Homo sapiens: one gene and its partner. The protein of the gene in region 1 purifies or fractionates together with the protein of each later gene. This does not show direct contact. Each region holds a gene or a part of one and is shown on either strand. Other genes may lie near its edges.

Region 1 (10,514 bases):
TGTACAACTGAGAGAAGCACTTGGTTACTTGACAACTCACACACCATCAGTGCCAGAGCCAGACCTTCAGGCTTTCAAGCTGTGCAACTGTGGACAGGTTTCTTTTTTCTGCAAGTAAGTTGCCTCCACTATAATTTTGGAAATGTAATAGCTTATATCTTATAATTTTGTGACAAGGACGTGATTATGATAAATTGTGTTTTGCAGGTTTGGACATACAAACCGAAAACTATTGCTACCATTTTTTGTTACCACTATTCTCATTAGCTACAGAAGATTTTGCAACTTGCAGGACCTCCCTGTTTCTAAATAGAATGAACTCACTGTTGGTTTGGTGGCTGGATTTTCATGGAACATTCTATTCTATGAAGTTAAGTGAATGTTTGTGTGATCAATAATAAAAAGTGGTTTGTTTGCTGAATGAATGAGCCAAGAAAAAGAAAGGGCTTAGGAAAGAATGTGCTCAAGGCTCTTTTGGCCTTCTGTAAATCTTTGGCTTTACAGAAGCAGGTAGCTCAGAATTGAGGTGCTTGGAAAGTGTAATTTTGATTTCAAGCTTAGGTGATTTAAGTTTTTTTCATTGTGGTACGAAAATGTAAAAAGTGCCATTTTAAGCATTTCTTAGTGTGCACCTTAGTGGTATTAAGTACATTCATGAGAGAGATTTGTTGTGCAACCAATCTCTAGAAACTTTCTCTTAAAAACCTGAAACTCTCTATCACTAAATGATAACTCTCAATATCTTTTTCCTGGAAACCACTATTCTAATTTCTGTTTCTATGAATCTGGCTACTGTAAATACCATGCATAAGTGGAATCATACTATGTTTGTTTTTGTGACTGGATTATTTCATATAGCATAATGTACTCTAGTTCATCTATATAGAATTCTACAGCCTGTGTCTGAATCTTCTTCCCTTTTGAGTCTGAATAAGATTCTATTCCATGAATGCACAGATTTGCTTCATCCATTTATCTGGGGATGAACAATGGATTGGATCCCCTTCCTGATGGATGTGAATAGTGTCCTTAAAGACATGCGTATGCAATATCTCTACAAGATCCTGATTTCAGTTTTTGTGGATGTATCCTCAAAGGAGAAATTCCTTCATCCTATGATATTTTCTATTTTAATTTGAGAGGCCCCCATACTCTTCCATGGCAGCTGCAGATTTTACATTCCCACCAAATGTGCACAAGAATTGCTACCTCTGTACATCCTTGTTACAATATTATATTCTAATTTATTAGTTTGCTTGTTGGTCTGTTTTATAATAGCACCCTAAGGGGTATGAAAAGTCTATGTTATTTTGACCTGAGATTTGAAAACCAAAAAAATCAGTGGGGTAGCAAAATCTGAAGGTGTCTCACCTCTCACACCCATTCTGCTGTCATAAGCCATAGAGGAAAGTGGAAGCTCCCCTCCATTTGGCCCATCCTGTTCTCCAGCCACAAACCCATCCCTGTTTTACCATGTGCACCTGTCTGTTTCAGGTTCACCTGGCTATCTGGTGTCCCTCACAAGCCACTTGGTTTATACATTGTCGATTTCTCTCATGTTGTTCCCTGGGCTTCTTCCACACTTTGTGTGTGTGTGTGTGTGTACGTGTATGTGTGTATGTGTGCATTTGCATGTATGTGTGTGTCTGTGTGCATGTGTGTATGTGTGTGTGTTTGTGTGTGTCTGTGTGTGTATGTGTGTATGTTTTGTGTGTGTCTGTGTGTGTATGTGTGGCTGTGTGTATGTGTATCTGTGTGTGTGTATTTGTGTGTATGTGTGTGTCTGTGTGTATGTGTGCATATGTGTGTGTCTGTGTGTGTGTGTGTTGTGTGTGGGTGTATGTGTGTGTGTGTGTGTGTGTGAATCAAATCCGATGTGTCCCTGAGCGGCACTCAGATATGCTCCTTTATATTCCCAGCAACACGTCTCAGTGCCTTCACCCAGAACGTTCCATGCCTCCCCCTGTTTCCCTGGAGCACTCTGCTCATGGCTGGGGAAGGGCAGAGGAGTTGTCCCCATGGGCTGCTTTGCTGCTGGGACCCTGGGAACTCAGAAGCTCTGAACCTCCTAATTAGAAGAGAAACTAAACAGGAGCTCCTATTAGTCAATATAGAGCTTGGTGAGTTGATATTAAATTTCCCTGAAATTGTTTTAGAAGTCTTGGCTTCCACTAGAAGATTAGGAGTTGGAGTGGTTGATGCGGCAAAATCCTCGTTTCACTGTTCTCTCTAGGGATGTGGAAAACCGATGAGTTTCTTTCACAGTCACCACCACACTACTCATCTTTCACCCTCAACTGCCCACAGGGAAGCCTGGCACCATGAGCATTCTTTTACACTGAACATGAATGTCACCCATTTAGCAGTTTGTTGATTCATAATTTTATGATGTATTTGTTAAAAGATTGTTTGCTGATCTTCTTCTCCATGCCAGCCGCTGTGCTGAGCCAAGATGAGCAAAAGCAGATACTGGCCCTGTGATTATGGAGCTAACAGTCCAGGAAAACTTGTATCCATGAACTGATTACACATTTGTAAAATAACAGCCTTGGAATTGCTGCAAATGAGAGGTGCATGGTTCCAGCAGTGTCTGTAAAGGGCAACACTGACCAAAGCATCGGGGTCAGGCAACAATGCCCGTGGGTGGAAAGAATGAACTGAAATATTGCATGAACTCGGTAAGGAGGAGGGACCCATTAAAAATATCAATGATGAAAACTAAAAAACCCTGTGCAGGTGTTAAGGGCAATAGGAATGATAAAAGTACAAGCAAACAGTCCTCTCTCAGAGATACACATCCTCCCCGGTGGACCATAGAGCTGACAAGGTGAATGCCAAGCCTGTGCCAGGACAAGCTCTGGTCCACAGTTAGGATGAATGCCTCACAGACCTGTCTGCTGTGAAAGACGTCTCAGTCCTGAAGCCCAAGTCCATGGGTCTGTAGACTCAGAGATCATGAACTGGATTTCTTTTTCCATTTATGTCAGAGAGAAATGGTGTATCTAGGTGTCCATGTAGTTCTGAAAGTAGGTGATTTAGTGGATTTTGGCTGTGCTCTAAACTAGGAACTACTGGCAAACCATGACATATATGACAAGTGGGACAAGATAATGGGAGTTAGAATTTATTGAGAACTACTATGTACCAGAACTTAGTTAACTTTAAACACACACACCCCCATGAACACACTCATTTGATCATCTATGAACCCAATGATGTAGGCACAATTACTAGCCTACTTTGACAAATAGGAAAACTGAGGTTACATAAGCTGAATAATTTTCTTAAGGTCCAAGAGCCCACAAATGAGGCTGTATCTGTGAGCCTTGTATCTGTGAGCCTCACCACTGGCCCTCCCACTCCTTGGTGGTGGCGGAAGAGCTGGCTCAGGGATTTCCTCATGATCCTGTGTGATGGAAGTGACAGCCACTGTTGCCCTCAGCTGGGGCTCAAACAAACCTGCCAAGTTGTCTCTGATGACACAGCCCATAAGGTCCCCTCTTTACATACATGTCTTTCTGTGTGGTTTTCAGCCCTCCTGCCCATCAGAAACACCAGAGCAGTTTAAACAGTGTAGGAATCAGGGAGTCAACCCAACGCTACTGAATCAAAATCCCCAGAGAGAGAAACCTGGGGAGTCAGTATATTTTAAAAGCTCCAAGTGATTCGATTGCGCAGCTGCGAATGGAAAGCTCGGGCCTAGGCTGTGAATCCTCTCAAAAGTAAGTTCATTTAAGAGAGAAATTTCTTGATGTGTTGCTGGATTCGGTTTGCCAGTATTTTATTGGGGATTTTTGCATCGATGTTCATCAGGGATATTGGTCTATAATTCTCTTTTTTTGTTGTGTCTCTGCCAGTCTTTGGTATCAGGATGGTGCTGGCCTCATAAATTGAGTTAGGGAGGATTCCCTCTTTTTCTATTGATTAGAATAGTTTCAGAAGGAATGGTACCAGCTCCTCCTTGGACCTCTGGTAGAATTCGGCTGTGAATCCATCTGGTCCTGGACTTTTTTTGGTTGGTAGGCTATTAATTATTGCCTCAATTTCAGAGCCTGTTATTGGTCTATTCAGAGATTCAACTTCTTCCTGGTTTAGTCTTGGGAGGGTGTATGTGTCGAGGAATTTATCCATTTCTTCTAGATTTTCTAGTTTATTTGCATAGAGGTGTTTATAGTATTCTCTGACGGTAGTTTGTATTTCTATGGGATCGGTGGTGATATCCCCTTTATCATTTTTTATTGTATCTATTTGATTCTTCTCTCTTTTTTTCTTTATTAGTCTTGCTAGTGGTCTATCAATTTTGTTGCTCTTTTCAAAAAACCAGCTCCTGGATTCGTTGATTTTTTGAAGGGTTTTTTGTGTCTCTATCTCCTTCAGTTCTGCTCTGATCTTAGTTATTCAATGCCTTCTGCTAGCTTTTGAATATGTTTGCTCTTGCTTCTCTAGTTCTTTTAATTGTGATGTTAGGGTGTCAATTTTAGATTTTTCCTGCTTTCTCTTGTGGGCATTAAACTTATCCACCATGATCAATTGGGCTTCATCCCTGGGATGCAAGGTTGGTTCAACATACGTAAATCAATAAATGTAATCCAGCATATAAACAGAACCAATGAAAAAATCACATGATTATGTAAACTAGTTCAACCATTGTGGAAGTCAGTGTGGCGATTCCTCAGGGACCTTGAACTAGAAATACCATTTGACCCAGCGATCCCATTACTGGGTATATACCCAAAGGATTATAAATCATGCTGCTATAAAGACGCATGCACACGTATGTTTATTGCAGCACTATTCACAATAGCAAAGTCTTGGAACCAACCCAAATGTCCAACAATGATAGACTGGATTAAAAAAATGTGGCACATATACACCACGGAATACTATGCAGCCATAAAAAATGATGAGTTCATGTCCTTTGTAGGGACATGGATGAAGCTGGAAACCATCATTCTCAGCAAACTATCGCAAGGACAAAAAAACAAACACCGCGTGTTCTCACTCATAGGTGGGAATTGAACAATGAGAACACATGGACACAGGAAGGGGAACAGCACACACCAGGGACTGTTGTGGGGTGGGGGGAGGGGGGAGGGATAGCATTAGGAGATATACCTAATGTTAAATGATGAGTTAATTGGTGCAGCACACCAACATGGCACATGTATACATATGTAGCTAACCTGCACGTTGTGCACACGTACCCTAAAACTTAAAGTATAATAACAAAAAAGAGAGAGAAATTTCTAGTGATTGATTTCCTGCTCACACCACACAAAGGCATCACAGCAGGAGGGCAGGAGGGTGTGTATTGCTTTGTCTGGGTGCTTCCTTCCCTTTCTATTAAAAATGGGATTGGCTCAGGCTGCACAGCTAGATTTGAAGTGGAAAACTTGAGCCTAGAGGTTGGGGGGAAGTGACCACTCACCCTGATCATCTGTCTCTTCTTTTCCATCTTCTTCCCCTCCTGGAGCCCCAGAGCAAAGAACTCTCAGTACCTGTCCGATGCATGATTGGCTCTGGACACTCCAAAAGCTACTTGGAAAAAGTTAGGCTATGTAATCATCAGGTCAACCCATCAACATGTGGGTGGCTACACATCACAGAAAGCTTGCTCCTCGTAGAGAGAAAATGTGAGTCTTGGCCATATTTATAGCTGCACTCATAAACAAGACTCAGGTTTGGGAGTGAGACAGGCTAGAGAACAGGTGCAGCAGTTGCTTTTCCCCAGGAAATCCTCCAAAGGTAAGATGCATTGAACTAGGTTTTAGGTACCTATGCAGTGAACATGGTGGTGATGGGAGGGGCTGAGGGGAATAGGTCTTGTTTAGACTTGCTCAATGTGCAACTGAAACAAGCCTACTGGTTGTCAGACATGCAGGGGGATCAAAGCAGGGTTTCCTTATGTCCCTGCTCCCCCATAACCAGAACACAGCCTTCCAGCTTCCTGTGCCTTCCAAAGTCAGAATTTACCTGTGCCCTTGAACTGATACAAAGAAAAAAAATAATCAGCAAAACTCAGAAGGAAACAGAATCCCAGGAATATTTCCAGAGGTGCCTGAACATTCACCTGGAACACAGAGCAGAGTTCCTGCAGGGCTACCCTCCTGTGCTCTGCCCCAGTCAGAGTGCAGGGAGGCGTGGGGAGGTGACACAGATGGATGGCAACAGCCCTGGGAAGGAGAGGTGGGCTGGGAGCCAGGCCTCATGACCAGTACCAGCTAGACTCCCTAGGTACAAATAGCCCTGGGCTCTGCAGCTCCACAGGCTCCTGGGGTGGAGTCCAAATCACTCATTGTTTGTGAAAGCTGAGCTCACAGCAAAACAAGCCACCATGAAGCTGTCGGTGTGTCTCCTGCTGGTCACGCTGGCCCTCTGCTGCTACCAGGGTGAGTACATCAGTCATGAGTCTAGCTCCAGCCCCTGGGAAGCACCCTCTTCCAAGCACGAGGTCACCTATTCAGGCTGGGGTTAGGATCTGCACAAAACCAAAATTCCAAACCTTTTTCTGTGCTTGTTGAACAAGCCCCTCATCAAGTTCAGAGCTATTTCTTCTACTCCCCAGCACCTACGAAGTTTTATTGAAAATCAGTGCAGGCAAATATTAGGAATTCTTCTGCCTGAGCTTCACTCCTGGGTGGGATCTGTGTCAGATGATGTAATGTGAGGTCTGGGGTGAATCTGGGATCCGCCACTTCCCAGCCCTTTGACCTTGGGCACAATGCTCACCCTCCCTGAGCCTCCTCCTATCACTGGTAGTTAGCGCTTCTGCCAGGAGAGGCTATGAGAATGGAGTAAGAAAGATTAATACTGTCAAAAGAGTCTAGCTGTGGGCTAAGCATGGCGGCTCATGCCTGTAATCCTAGCACTTTGGAAGGTCAAGGAGAGTGAATTGCTTGAGCTCAGGAGTTTGAGTCCGGCCTAGGCAACGTGGCGAAACTCCAGCTTTACCAAAAGAAATATGAAAAATCAGCTGGACGTGGTGACATGCACCAGTAGTCTCAGCTACTTAGGGGGCTGAGATGGGGATATCGCTTGAGCCCAGGAGGTAGAGGCTGCAGTGAGCCATGATTGAGCTACTGAATTCCAGCCTGGGTGACAAAGGGAAAAAAAAGAGTTTGGCTGTTGATATGAAGTGCTTTCCTTTATTGTGAGAGCTTGAGGAAGTCACACCTGAAGGGTCTGGCATTGTCATCAGCACAACAAATGTATGTGAACATATAACCCAGGGGATCCTGTCTGGTCTAACGTCAGGGAGCCAAAGAGAAAAATCGACTTTCCTAACATCAACTATATTTTTATTCTTTTGCTGCAGCCAATGCCGAGTTCTGCCCAGCTCTTGTTTCTGAGCTGTTAGACTTCTTCTTCATTAGTGAACCTCTGTTCAAGTTAAGTCTTGCCAAATTTGATGCCCCTCCGGAAGCTGTTGCAGCCAAGTTAGGAGTGAAGAGATGCACGGATCAGATGTCCCTTCAGAAACGAAGCCTCATTGCGGAAGTCCTGGTAACTTCTTTCTCCTTTATTTGTTAAGGCTTCTGGTCAGCTGCACAGTATGAAGTGAGGTCAGCTTGCTGCTCTGTTGGGGACACAGGTGGTGGGGCAGCTGCCTTGCTGGTCACCTCTTGAGAAGGTCACCTGGGGCCACAGGGTGGGTGCCACCATTTCACCTGCAGAATTCAACTCAGCTGCACACAGCCTCCTGCATGTTCCTCCTTCTCATGTCACCTGCCTGGATGCCATGTCCCCAGAGTGTGCTGAGGACATGGGGAGTGAGCCTGGGCCCAGGCAGAAATGGTAAAGGGCCAAGCATGGCCGCCTCGCTGCTGGGAGCTTTCCTGAGACCAAACTGCCCTCATGTAATGGACACAGTCACTGTGGAATGTCCTGGGGAGCATGGGAGCCTTGAACAGGGAGAGGAAGGCAGGGAGGGACATAGAGCAGGGGCTCCTGCAGATGTAGCACTGGCAGGCTGGACTTCTCTGCAGCTTCTGCAGAGCCAGGAAGGAGCCCCTCCCAGCTCCTGAGACCCCATACTCCCCTCCACACCCACGACACTCTCCTGACCATGGCCAGTCGTCCAAGACCCTAGCTAGTCTACCTCCTGCAGTGCCATGGAAGCGGGATGTTCTCACTCTGTCTTTCTCAAGAAATCAGAGGTTTTCCAGGGGCCTCTCTGCCTGGCTGCCTCTGAGTTGCTGTCCTGAGGTTTAGCTGCAAATGCTCATGGAAGCTGCAGGCTCGGGACTGAGAGGTGCTCGGGCCCTGAGGCAGAATTCCCACATGGGGAGGCTGGAGTCTCCTGGAAGCCAAGCTTCCCAGAAGCCCTCTCAGCCCTGACCAGCCTCTCAGTCCTGGGTCCCTCACTGCAGGAACCAGGAGACTCCAAGCCCTGGGACAGCCCAGGCAATAACCTCTTGCTGCTCTCTCCAACCCTCGTCACTTGCTTCCATGAGGATCCTGGGCCTCATTCCCGGATCACCCCAGGGCTATTGGCCTGGCAAGAAAAGGCTGCTCCATCACCGGCATGGGTGCTGTGAGGCCACCAGGTCTAGGCCTCAGTTTCCCAAACTGAGTTGTTGCCTCTGCCCTTCCAATTGCCTTTGGGGGCAGAATCCCACTGGCCTCTTGGATGTGAGCCTGTCACCTCCAGCAGCAGCATGACTGACCCCACCTTCTTTTTTCTTTTCCTATTTTAGGTGAAAATATTGAAGAAATGTAGTGTGTGACATGTAAAAACTTTCATCCTGGTTTCCACTGTCTTTCAATGACACCCTGATCTTCACTGCAGAATGTAAAGGTTTCAACGTCTTGCTTTAATAAATCACTTGCTCTCCACGTCTCCACTGGTCTTGTTATAATCCTGCAGTCTCGAGCCTTGAGTACAGGGTGGTTTCCATAGTGGAGTGGCCTTTTGCTGTGGGTGATAATTAACTCCAGAGAACCAGCATCCTGTTACTAATGGGGCCTGAGTCCAGGTGTCACAGAGGAGAATATTTGGTAGGAATTATCCTGCATTCCTTACAGATTTCCCATCTTGCAGCCGTGAATAAAAACCATGGTAACAAGGACACAGGAATTGAAATGTTCCACTGGTCTTACACTGAGAGAACCCCCAGCCTGAATGGGTATCCAGGCCGAGGGTTCCCACCTATCAGTGACTTTACTCTGATGTCCCCTCAGACCCACAGTCAGCCTGCTTGGTGCTCTCTCTGCACTATGCTTTCTGTCCTCCGTCATGTCCAGTATACTTCATTTTCCACTTATCACAATTTGGGGTCCTCTTTAGGTTTCAACCTGGAGTTCACATTGTTTTACTCCCCACGCTCAGAGCACTCCTCAGCGTCTGCATCACTCACCAGCACCTGAGGTGAATGCTTCCTTCCTCAAGCTCTCCCAAGAGCTCCAGAGACCAGCACCCCCTGACAACTGGACAGCTCCCAGTGCGCACTCCACAGTCATTTCAGGAGCAGGATGTAAAACTGAGCACAGGGTCTGCCCCCAGCCTGCTCTCCCTTCCATGAGCCCATCCAGGCTAAGGCACCCACCCAGCAAGCACCCTGACCAGGACACAGAGAGACACCACAGTTTCCCTGCTTGGTGTCCTGTGACTACTGGAACAAAAATCTGCAAACTTCATGGCTTAAAACGACTGATTCTCAGGCATCTCTGGGGGTCAGAAGTCCAACATTAGTATCACTGTGAAGACGTTAGGGGGCAGCAGGGCTCCGCTCCCTCTGGGGACTCTTGGGGGGAATTCACTAAGGGTTGCTTCTGGCTTCTGGGCTAATAATTGTCCTGGTCCTGTGGCCACATCACTCCAACCTCTGCCTCCATGATATGTTCCCTTCTTTTCTTTCTACATCAACCCCACCCACCTTGGCTTTTTTTTTTTTTTTTTTTTGAGAAGGAGTCTCGCTCTGTCGCCCAGGCTGGAGTGCAGTGGCACCATTTCGGCTCACTGCAAGCTCCACCTCCCGGGTTCACGCTGTTCTCCTGCCTCAGCCTCCCGAGTAGCTGGGACTACAGGCGCCCGCCACCATGCTCGGCTAATTTTTTGTATTTTTAGTAGAGATGGGGTTTCACCGTGTTAGCCAGGATGGTCTTGATCTCCTGACCTCGTGATCCACCCACCTCGGCCTCCCAAAGTGCTGGGATTACAGACGTGAGCCACCACCCTGACTTTTAATCACAAAATACACAGGTTTGGTTTTGGGACCCTGCAGATTATTCAGAATAACACCCCATCTCATTATGTTTGATCGTGTCTGCCAAGTGCTTTTTTTGTCATATAATGGAACATTCACAGATTTCAGGAACTAGGATGTGGGTATCTTTCAGGGTGGACATGAGGCAGCCAATGACAGCTCCCCTCCCTCCTGACTCCTAACAGTGCACTATGTTCTATTCCCTCCATTGCCCCAGAATCACCTTTACGAGTTCCTTCTTTCCCATCACACAGTCATATCACAGTCTGGTCTATGTCCTCCCCAGCTCTGACCAAATTCTTCTACATT
Region 2 (9,599 bases), on another chromosome or scaffold:
TTCAAGGTTCATCCATGATGTACAGGCTATCTTTCTTATTCTCTCAGTAAATACTGGGTATCCATCCTCTCCTTCTCCCTGGGGATCCCTGAGCCAGGATAGACCTGAACCTCCACTGCAGCCCTGACCTCCTGTGGGTCCCTTTGAAAGGACAGGCGCCCCACTGGTAAGGCCTCTTAGTAATTCCCTGGGAAGTATTCCTTGGAACCCATCAGGATTCCTGGAGCAGTTTTGGATGGATCCCAGCCTTCAAGATTGATGGGAGGAGGCTCTTGGCACTTATCCTGCTGCGAACCGTCCAGCTGAGGATTTCAGAGAACTCTTGGGGCCCTCCACGCATGTCTTGATTTTTCAGAATCAGCCAGGGCTGCTCTTAAAAATGGGCTGAACAAATCGATCTGATTTGAGGGGCTCTAGGGAAAGCCCCTAGCTCATTAAGAAGACCTCTTGGGGAGTCTCCCTTTCAATCTTAAATATTTCCTAGTGTCACACAGTAAAACACAAATGTCTTTTGCTCGTTTTCAGTTGACAGCCTCTGCAGTGATACCACTGTAAAGCCACATTCGCAGTCAGTGTTATCTAAACCCAGCCAAATGACTGCTGTTTTCCTGGCCTGTCTAGTGTAACCTAAGATCCCTTTAAAGGACAAGAGCCTTCCTAGAACTGCTGCATGATGGAGTGGTGCTGTTTGAGCACCACTGAGTTAACAAATTATCTGGGATTATGATAGTCCATTGAGAACAAAGTTGTTGGTAAACGGGGCACTAGTTGATCCCCCCAGGGAACTGACAGTAGAGTGGAGGGAGAAAGTTTAAAGGAAAGTGATAAAAATAAACTTTCTTCTTGGCAGGTTTGCCCCTCGATAGTGCTGGATGTTAGGAAAATAATCATTCTCCTTGACTTCTTCTGTGAGTAAATAAAAAATGGCAGGGATCCAGTTACTTTTCTGTATACACTAAGCTTTTGTTGTAGACCAAACTGCATCCTGTTCCTGTGACGTGTGTGTGTGTGTGTGCGCGCGCGTGTGTGTGTGTGTGTGTGTGTGTGTGTGTGTGTTGGAAATGTTGGCATATTTTTTGAGTACTTACTGGGTATCTGCCTTTTTCTCTTTTAGAAACACACTTAAGTCTCCCAGTTACTTGGGGAAGAAAATAATATTCCTCCTTTAGCAATCACTGAGCTTCAAGGATAAAAAGCACCTTGTATGGGATCACAAAGACAGCAAGTGACAGAAATATGATTAAGAAAAGTCTATATGGGGCCAGGCACAGTGGCTCATGCCTGTAATCCCAGCATTTTGGGAGGATCACCTGAGGTCAAGAGTTCAAGGCCAGCATGGCCAACATGGCAAAACCCCATCTCTACTAAAAATATAAAGATTAGCTGGGCGTGGTGGTGGGCACCTGTAATCCTAGATACTTGGGAGGCTGAGGCGGGCATTGAGAATATAAAAGAGAGTCTATAGGAAATTCTGAGCGTTCTTTAAGTCAAAGTTTAGAGCCTAGACTCCCCGTTTCCTCCAGGTAATTTTTTTATTAGTGGTCTTGTTGCACTTTTCTCTCTATGGGCCTTTGTCGGAGCTACCCTGAAAGGTGTCTCTGTGAATTTTAGAGAGCAATGTTTTGCCTCATTTCTCCTAGAAATTATCTGAGTTGCTTACAAAAATTGGTCCAGAGGTAGGTTGTGCTTTGCTAAGTCCATTGCAATGTCTTAGGGTGTGTCTTTATCTAGGAGCAGTCAGAGGGCCCATTATTGGATAAAGATCTATTTCTGGGTGGCCTTTTGTCTCTGGCTTTTGCAAAGAGGAGAACATTTAATTGATGTCTAAAAATGATAATTTGCTGCAGGTTGTTTGCTTCTGTTCTTCCTTCACTTCCCAGCCCTGTCTCCTGCCATGTGCTGGCACTGTGCTAAGCATTCAAAATACAGTAGGGAATAATATGCTTTGGCAAATGGAAATGCCAATAGCTAACTACGGGGTAGTGTTCAATGCTGCAGAATGGAAAATAAAGATTACTACTATAGGAAACAGGAAGAGCACCTGACCCCAGACTTGGAAGATCAAGGAAAACTTCCTGAAGGAAAGGATGTCTAAACTGAGATGTAAAGCTACCCTTTATACTGATTACAGATGTACATTGTAGTTAAAAACAGTCTCCCATTTCTTTGACAGATGAACTATGTCAGTGTTTGAAAAAAATGAAGAGAGGGAAAAAAAGCCAGGTGAAGAACATTCTTGTGTCAAGCAGCTGTCATTCCAATTTGCCATACTTTTGGAATGGCTCTACCTTCTGTCATTTAGAACATACAGCATGAGTTTAATACTGATTGAGCAGCTGTATAACTGAGGCTAATTTTCAGTCAAATTCCTTGCGTTTGAGTGATTCACAGGGATGCTGCTAACCTAATATAGTTTTTCTGTAAATTAGAAAAAGGAAGCCTCTCTGTGCAAACCTATGGCATGGGAGAAGAAAACAGTTCTGTTTTATCTGGATAACACAGCTTTGCACTGGGGCACACAACTTGGGAGCAGAGTGTCTGCCAATTTCAAGTGTCATTGACCCTAGGCGAAGTGTAAATTGTTTAGTTCATTAACTGCGAGCTGTACACACATTAGCCCTGATCATTCAGTCATTAACTATTAAATCAATCAATATTTACTGATTGCCTATGTGTGTTGAACTTTCTTGAATATGGGTTAAACTGCCCATCTAGATGTCTGATAGTGCCCAAGATCTAGAAGGTTAAAACAGTGACTGAGGCCATGAAACTAGCTGGAGAACCTCAATAAGATGAGGGACAGATGCAGTTCATCAGAGGCCTGGTTGGTGAAGGATCAAGTTTGGTGCTACTGCTGGTTGGTGCCCATCCACAAACTGTTACCTGCCTCTGATAAGACAAAAACTACACGATGATGTAAATCAAATATGTCAATAAGCGCACTGTTCACCAAGCACACTGTTAGTTCAACGGAGATTATCATTATTTTTTCATAGCAAAGCTTTTCTGACGAAGGAAGCAAAAGAATACATAGACTTGCATATTGGCATAAGCTCCTTATCTCACTGAGGACCAGTAACAGTTCATAGACCAGCTACTTTGAGTAGCACCAATCTAGGCAACATTGGCCCACATTTGGCCAGATAGGTCATCTTGTATCCTTTCTGCCTTTATACTGTTTTCTTTTCTCTCTTTTCCCCTTATTTTTTCTTTGTTTCCTCTGCCTCCTCATCTTCTTCCTCTTCATCATTTTCCCTTTTCTTCTTCCTTCCCTTATTCCTACTTTACTGTTGCTTTCCCCTTCCATTTGATATTTCTCTCTTAAACAAAAATCACTGTGCATTTTATTCAGCTTTTTGTCTTTTAAAAAGCAAAATAAAGAAAGCCTACGTGTACAAGGAAAGAAATGTAAAATGGAAACATCACTAACTTGGAGAAAATTAAAAGAATTTAATGGTAATTAAAATAAAAATATGCCAATAAATTAGAAAGCCTGGATGAAATGGATTCTTTTTTTTCCAACTTTTATTTTAAGTTTGGGGATACAAGAACAGGTTTATGACATAGGTATATGTGTCATGCTGAAGTTTAGGGTATGAATGATCCCATCACCCAGGTAGTGAGCATAGTACCCAAAAGGTAGTTCTTCAACCCTCACCCCCTTTTTTTTCCTTCCCTCGCTATTAGTCCCCACTGTCTGTTTTCTCATCTTTATGTCCATGTGTACTGTTTAGCTCCTACTTATAAGTGAGAATATGTGGTACTTGGTTTTCTGTTCCTCTGTTAATTCACTTAGGATAATGGCCTCCAGCTGCATCCATGTTGCCGCAAAGGACATGATTTTGTTCTTTGTTATGGCTGTGTAGTATTCCATGGTGTATATGTACCACATTTTCTTTATCCAGTCCACCATTGATGAGCATCTAGGTTGATTTCACATCTTTGTTATTGTGAAGAGTGCTGTGATGAACATAGGAGTGCATGTGTCTTTTTGGTAGAATTATTTATATTCCTTTGCGTATATATCCATTAGTGGGATTACTGAGTTGAACGGTAGTTTTTTAAGTTCTTTGTGAAATCTCCAAACTGCTTTCCACAGTGGCTGAACCAATTTACATTCCTACCAACAGTGTATAAGCATTTCCTTTTCTCTGCAAATCTGTTTTTTTTTTTTTGACTTTTTAATGATAGCCATTCTGATTGGTGTGAGATAGTATCTCAATGTGATTTTGATTTGCATCTTTCTGATGATTAGCAATGTGGAGCATTTTTTCATGTTTGTTGGCTGCTTGTATGTCTTCTTTTGAGAAATATCCGCTCATGCCCTTTGCCTACATTTTTAATAGGGTTATTTGTTTTTTGCTTGTTGAATAATTTAAGTTCATTATAGATTCTGGATATCAGACCTTTGTTGGGTCCATACTTTGCAAATACTTTCTCCTATTCTGTAGATTGTCTATTTACTCTCTTGATAGTTTCTTTTGCTATTCAGAAGCTCTTTAGTTTAATTAGATCCCACTTGTCAATTTTTGTTTCTGTTGCAGTTGATTTGAGGACTTAGTCATAGATTCACTGCCAAAGCCTGTGTCTGGAATGGTATTTGCTAGGTTTTCTTCCTTTTTTCTTCCTTTCTTTTTTTTTTTTTTTTTTTTTTTTTTGAGACAGAGTCTTGCTCTGTCACCAAGGCTGGAGTGCAGTGGCGCTATCTCGGCTCACTGCAACCTCTGCCTCCTGGGTTCAGGCGATTCTCCTGCCCCAGCCTCTCTAGTAGTTGGGATTACAGGCATATGCCCCACCATGCCCAGATAATTTTTTATATTTTTAGTAGAGATGAGGTTTCACTGTGTTAGCCAGGATGGTCTTGATCTCCTGACCTCATGATCCACCCGCTTTGGCCTCCCAAAGTGCTGGGATTACAGGCATGAGCCACTGTGCCCAGCCGATATTTGCTAGGTTTTCTTCTAGGATTTTTTTATAATGTTAGATCTTACATTTAAGCCTTTAATCTATTTTGAGTTAATTTTCATATATGGTGAAAGGTAGGAGTCCCATTTCATTCTTCTGCATACAGCTAGCCAGCTATTCCAACACCATTTATTGAAGAGGTAGTCCTTTCCCCATTGCTTGTTTTTGTTGACATTGTTAAAGATCAGGTGGTTGTAGGTGTGTGACTTTATTTCTGTGTTTTCTAACCTGTTCCGTTTTCTGTGTGTTTGTTTTTGTACCAGTACCATGCTTTTTTGGTTACTGTAGCCTTGTAGTAGAGTTTGAAGTTGGATAATTTGATGCCTTCAATTTTGTTCTTTTTGCTTAGAATTGCTTTGGCTATTGAGGCTCTTTTTTGGTTTTGTTTAGAATTTTTTTTTTTTCTATTTCTGTGAAAAATGATGTAGGTAGTTTGATAGCAATAACATTGAACCTGGATATTGTTTTGGGTAACGTTCTTTTTTTTCTCTTTGAAACAGAGTCTTGTTCTGTCACCCAGGCTGTGTTTTGGGCAGTATTCTTATTTTAATGATATGAAATGAGTTATTTTTAAACAAAGTACAAATTACTAAAACTGATTTTTTATTATACAGGAATTATGAATAAAACATTAGACACAAACATGTTGAAAAAGTTGTTAAAAAGTAACCTCTCCAAGAGTACTGAACTCTCCCCATGGTTTTGCAATTGAATGCTAATGAAAATGTAAAAAAATAAAAATACCGTGCTATTATAACTGTTCCGGCCGGGCGCGGTGGCTCACGCCTGTAATCCCAGCACTTTGGGAGGCCGAGACGGGCGGATCACGAGGTCAGGAGATCGAGACCATCCTGGCTAACACGGTGAAACCCCGTCTCTACTAAAAATACAAAAATTAGCCAGGCATGGTGGCGCGTGCCTGTAGTCCCAGCTACACAGGAGGCTGAGGCAGGAGAATGGCGTGAACCCGGGAGGCGGAGCTTGCAGTGAGTTGAGATCGCGCCACTGCACTCCAGCCTGGGCGACAGAGCGAAACTCCGTCTCAAACAAAAAAAAAATAAAAAAAAAAAAAATAACTGTTCCAAAGTACAGTATAGAGAAAGAAGAAAAAATTCTGTTATTTTTTATAAAACTGGAAAAAATAATACTGATATCAAAACTTGACACAGCATAATAAAAAAGAAAAGCTACAGATTAATTTCACTAATATTGATGTACTTATTGATATGAATAGCATATTAGTAAATAGAACCCAAAAGAATAATTCACAATGATCAAGTTGGGCTCAAATTTTACAGGTAAGTTTAGTATTAGAAAATGGATTAATATAATTGTCATGTTAAAAAGTTAAGAGAAAAAAGTTAGAGGATATTCTTCATAACTACTACAATAATTTAACATTTTATTTCAGATTAATAGCTCAATAAAGTTTACACAGATGGAAATTTACTAAACATGATACATTTATATCAGTATATTTGTGTTTGTCTTCTCTAACAGTCTGTCTAGCCATGTGTCTTCAAAATCAAAGTCATGCCAAAGAAGCATTGCTATTAAAAATAAGAACAAGACAAAGTTTCCAGGATAAATATTCTGGAGATAGTAGCCAAAGTAATAAGAAAAGGGAAAGAAATGAAAAACATAAAATTTGGAAGGTAAGAAGAAAGATATCATCTACAGAAAAAATTAAGGAAATCAATTTTACAAACTTTAAGACTTTGAAAAAATGTTAAACTATTCAAGGTAGGTTACAAAATTAATATAAAAATAAAATTGCTTTACTATAATTAATAAACAACTTGTTTAAAAGTGATTAAGAAAAATCCATTAACAGGAAATAAAACATATATGTATATAATATGTAGAAATAAACTCAAAATGTCAAATTTATATAACTCTTTAAAGTGCTCATGAAGAAATGAAGATGACTGGCTTGAATAAACAAAGAATATATTCTTTTTTGATGTAAAGATGGACTATTGTATAAAAAAGGTCGATCTACCTAAATTGGTCTACTAATTTAACATGATCCCAATTTTGAGGAGTTTTTGGTACCTAGTCAAAAATAATCAGAAAGAAAACTTAAAAGAAAATATTAAAACATATTATAAAGTTTTGATATTTACAATTACTTAATAGTCACACATAAATAGAAAATCGATAGATTCGAAAATAAAATATAGCATTGTTAACCTGTGATCAAAAGGTAAATTATTCTATAAGTGGTATTGGACTAATTGGATAGACATGGAGAATAAAAGTTAAAACTTTTTCATTTACATCAAAATAAGTTTTAGATGATCAAAGATTTCAATTTAAAAATTGAAAATGTAAGAATACTAAAAGAAAATATAGGAAAATGCTATAATTCCAAAGGAGAAAGAGACTTATATGCATGTCATAAACCATAGGAGATAAAAAAGAAAAAAAATAAATATTGGGCAACGTGTTTTATCATATATGATGGAAAAAGAGCCACATATTAAATACAAAAATTTCTCATAAAAAGATGAACACTCCTAGCTGAGTGTGGTGGCTCACGCTTGTAATCCCAGCACTTTGGGAGGCCGAGGAAGTCAGATCACTTGAGGTCAGGAGTTCGAGACCAGCCTGGCCAACATGGCGAAACCCTGTCTCTACTAAAAATACAAAAAACAGTTGGGTATGGTGGTGCATGCCTGTAATCCCAGCTATTTGGGAGGCTGAGGCATGAGAATTGCTTGAACCTGGGAGGTGGAAATTGCAGCGAGCCAAGATTGCACCACTGCACTCCAGCCTGGGTGACAGAGTAAGTGAGATTCCATCACAAAAAACAAACAAACAAACAAAAAACAGATGAACAATCCTATAGAAAAATGACCAAGGATATGCTAGAGAGTTCACCGAACAAAAGACAGCTTAAGTAAATGAAAGATGTGCAGTCATACTTTTAGCCATGGTGATGTTATATGTTGAACTACAATTTTTTCATACATGAAAGAATTTGTAAATATCAGAGCCAGCAAGTTTATGGAAAAATAGACACATATACTTTTGGTGGTATATAAACTGGCATAATCTCTCTGGAGACCAATTTGGCAATATGCATTAATACTTTTTTTTTTCTTTTTGAGACAGTGTCTCCCTCTGTTGTCCAGGCTGGAGTGCAGTGGCACAATCTTGGCTCACTGAAACCTCCACCTTCCAGGTTCAACTAATTCTCCCACCTCAGCTTCCTGAATAGCTGGGATTACAGAAGCGCACCACCACAGCCTGTCTAATTTTTGTATTTTTAGTAGAGATGGGGTGTCACCATATTGGTCAGGCTGGTCTCGAACTCCCAACCTCAGGTGATCTGCCTGTCTTGGCCTCCCAAAGTGCTGGATTACAGGTGTGAGCCCTGTGCCCAACCCATTAATACTTTTTAAAAGGAATAAGCATACTTTATAACCAGCAGTTTAACTTTTAGCAAACTGTCTTAGAGAATATTTGTCCATGACTTTTTTGAGATTTTGATTAAAATTGCTTTGAATCTATAGATTATCTTAAAGACATTCTAACAGAGTACTTTTTTTTTTTTAACCCATGAACATGGTGCACTGCTCTATTTAGGCTTTCTTTCATTTCTGTCAGTAATACACTTTTATATTTTGGTATTCTGAAGAGTATAGAGGCCTTGCATGTCATATTAATTTCTAACTATTTTATGTTTTTGATGTCATTGTAAATAAATTTAAAATTTTTTTCTTTTTATTTATTTTCTGCTATTATATAAGAATACAATTGATTTTTTGCTGACTGATCTTGTCTGTCAGTCTTTCTAAATTATTAGTTCAAGTAGGGTTTTGTTTTTGGTAGATTCCTTAGAATTTTCTGGTAAACAACCCTGTTGATTGTGAATAGAGTCAGTTTACTTCTTCCTTCCCATTCTTTCTGCCTTTTATTTCTTTTTCTTGCCTGATTGCACTGGCTAGGACCTCTAGTACAGTGTTGAGTGGAACTAGTAATAGTTAACATCCCTATTTTATTCTTGATCTTAGGAGAAAAGCATTCAATATTTTACCATTCAGTGTGATACTAGCTATGGAGTTTTCATTGATGCCCTTTATTAGATTGAAGAAGTTCCTTTCTATTTTTAGTTTGCTGAGTTTCTTTAAAATCCTGAATGTGTATTGAATTTTGTGAAATACTTTTTGTCCTTCTATTTAGATTACACGCACACACACACACACTACATATATATATATATAAAATCTCATGCTAAATGATTAGTGGATATTATCTTGATGGTTAGCCTTTTTCTCCCTGAGGGAAGAAACATACTAAACATGCTAAATGATTTAAAAATATTAAACCAATATTACATTCCTGTAATAAGCTCTACTTGGTCATCATTATTATTATTTTTTACATTGTTAAATGCTATTTGATAATATTTTGTGAAAGATTTTTATATCTATGTTCATAAGGGTTATTCTGTGATTTTTATTTTTTGTGATGCTGTCTAGTTTTGATAAAAAGGTTATGTTAGGGCTGGGTGTGGTGGCTCATGCCTGTAATCCCAGCACTTTGGGCAGCTGAGGTGGGCAGATCACTTGAGGCCAGGTGTTCGAGACCAGCCTGGGCAACATGGTGAAACCCCCATCTCTACCAAA

The links.
Region 2: the proteins of SCGB1D2 (region 1) and COL14A1 purify together in Homo sapiens (affinity purification with mass spectrometry; 2 studies listed by BioGRID and IntAct, with this or other methods). This does not show direct contact.

The regions. Positions count from the first base shown.
Region 1 is NC_000011.10:62,235,974-62,246,487, forward strand, and holds SCGB1D2 (secretoglobin family 1D member 2 precursor), read left to right. Parts: upstream 1-6,265; 5' UTR 6,266-6,334; coding exon 6,335-6,389; intron 6,390-7,315; coding exon 7,316-7,503; intron 7,504-8,696; coding exon 8,697-8,726; 3' UTR 8,727-8,839; downstream 8,840-10,514. UniProt on the Homo sapiens protein: May bind androgens and other steroids, may also bind estramustine, a chemotherapeutic agent used for prostate cancer. May be under transcriptional regulation of steroid hormones.
Region 2 is NC_000008.11:120,127,207-120,136,805, forward strand, and holds part of COL14A1 (collagen alpha-1(XIV) chain isoform 1 precursor), read left to right. Parts: intron 1-9,599. UniProt on the Homo sapiens protein: Plays an adhesive role by integrating collagen bundles. It is probably associated with the surface of interstitial collagen fibrils via COL1.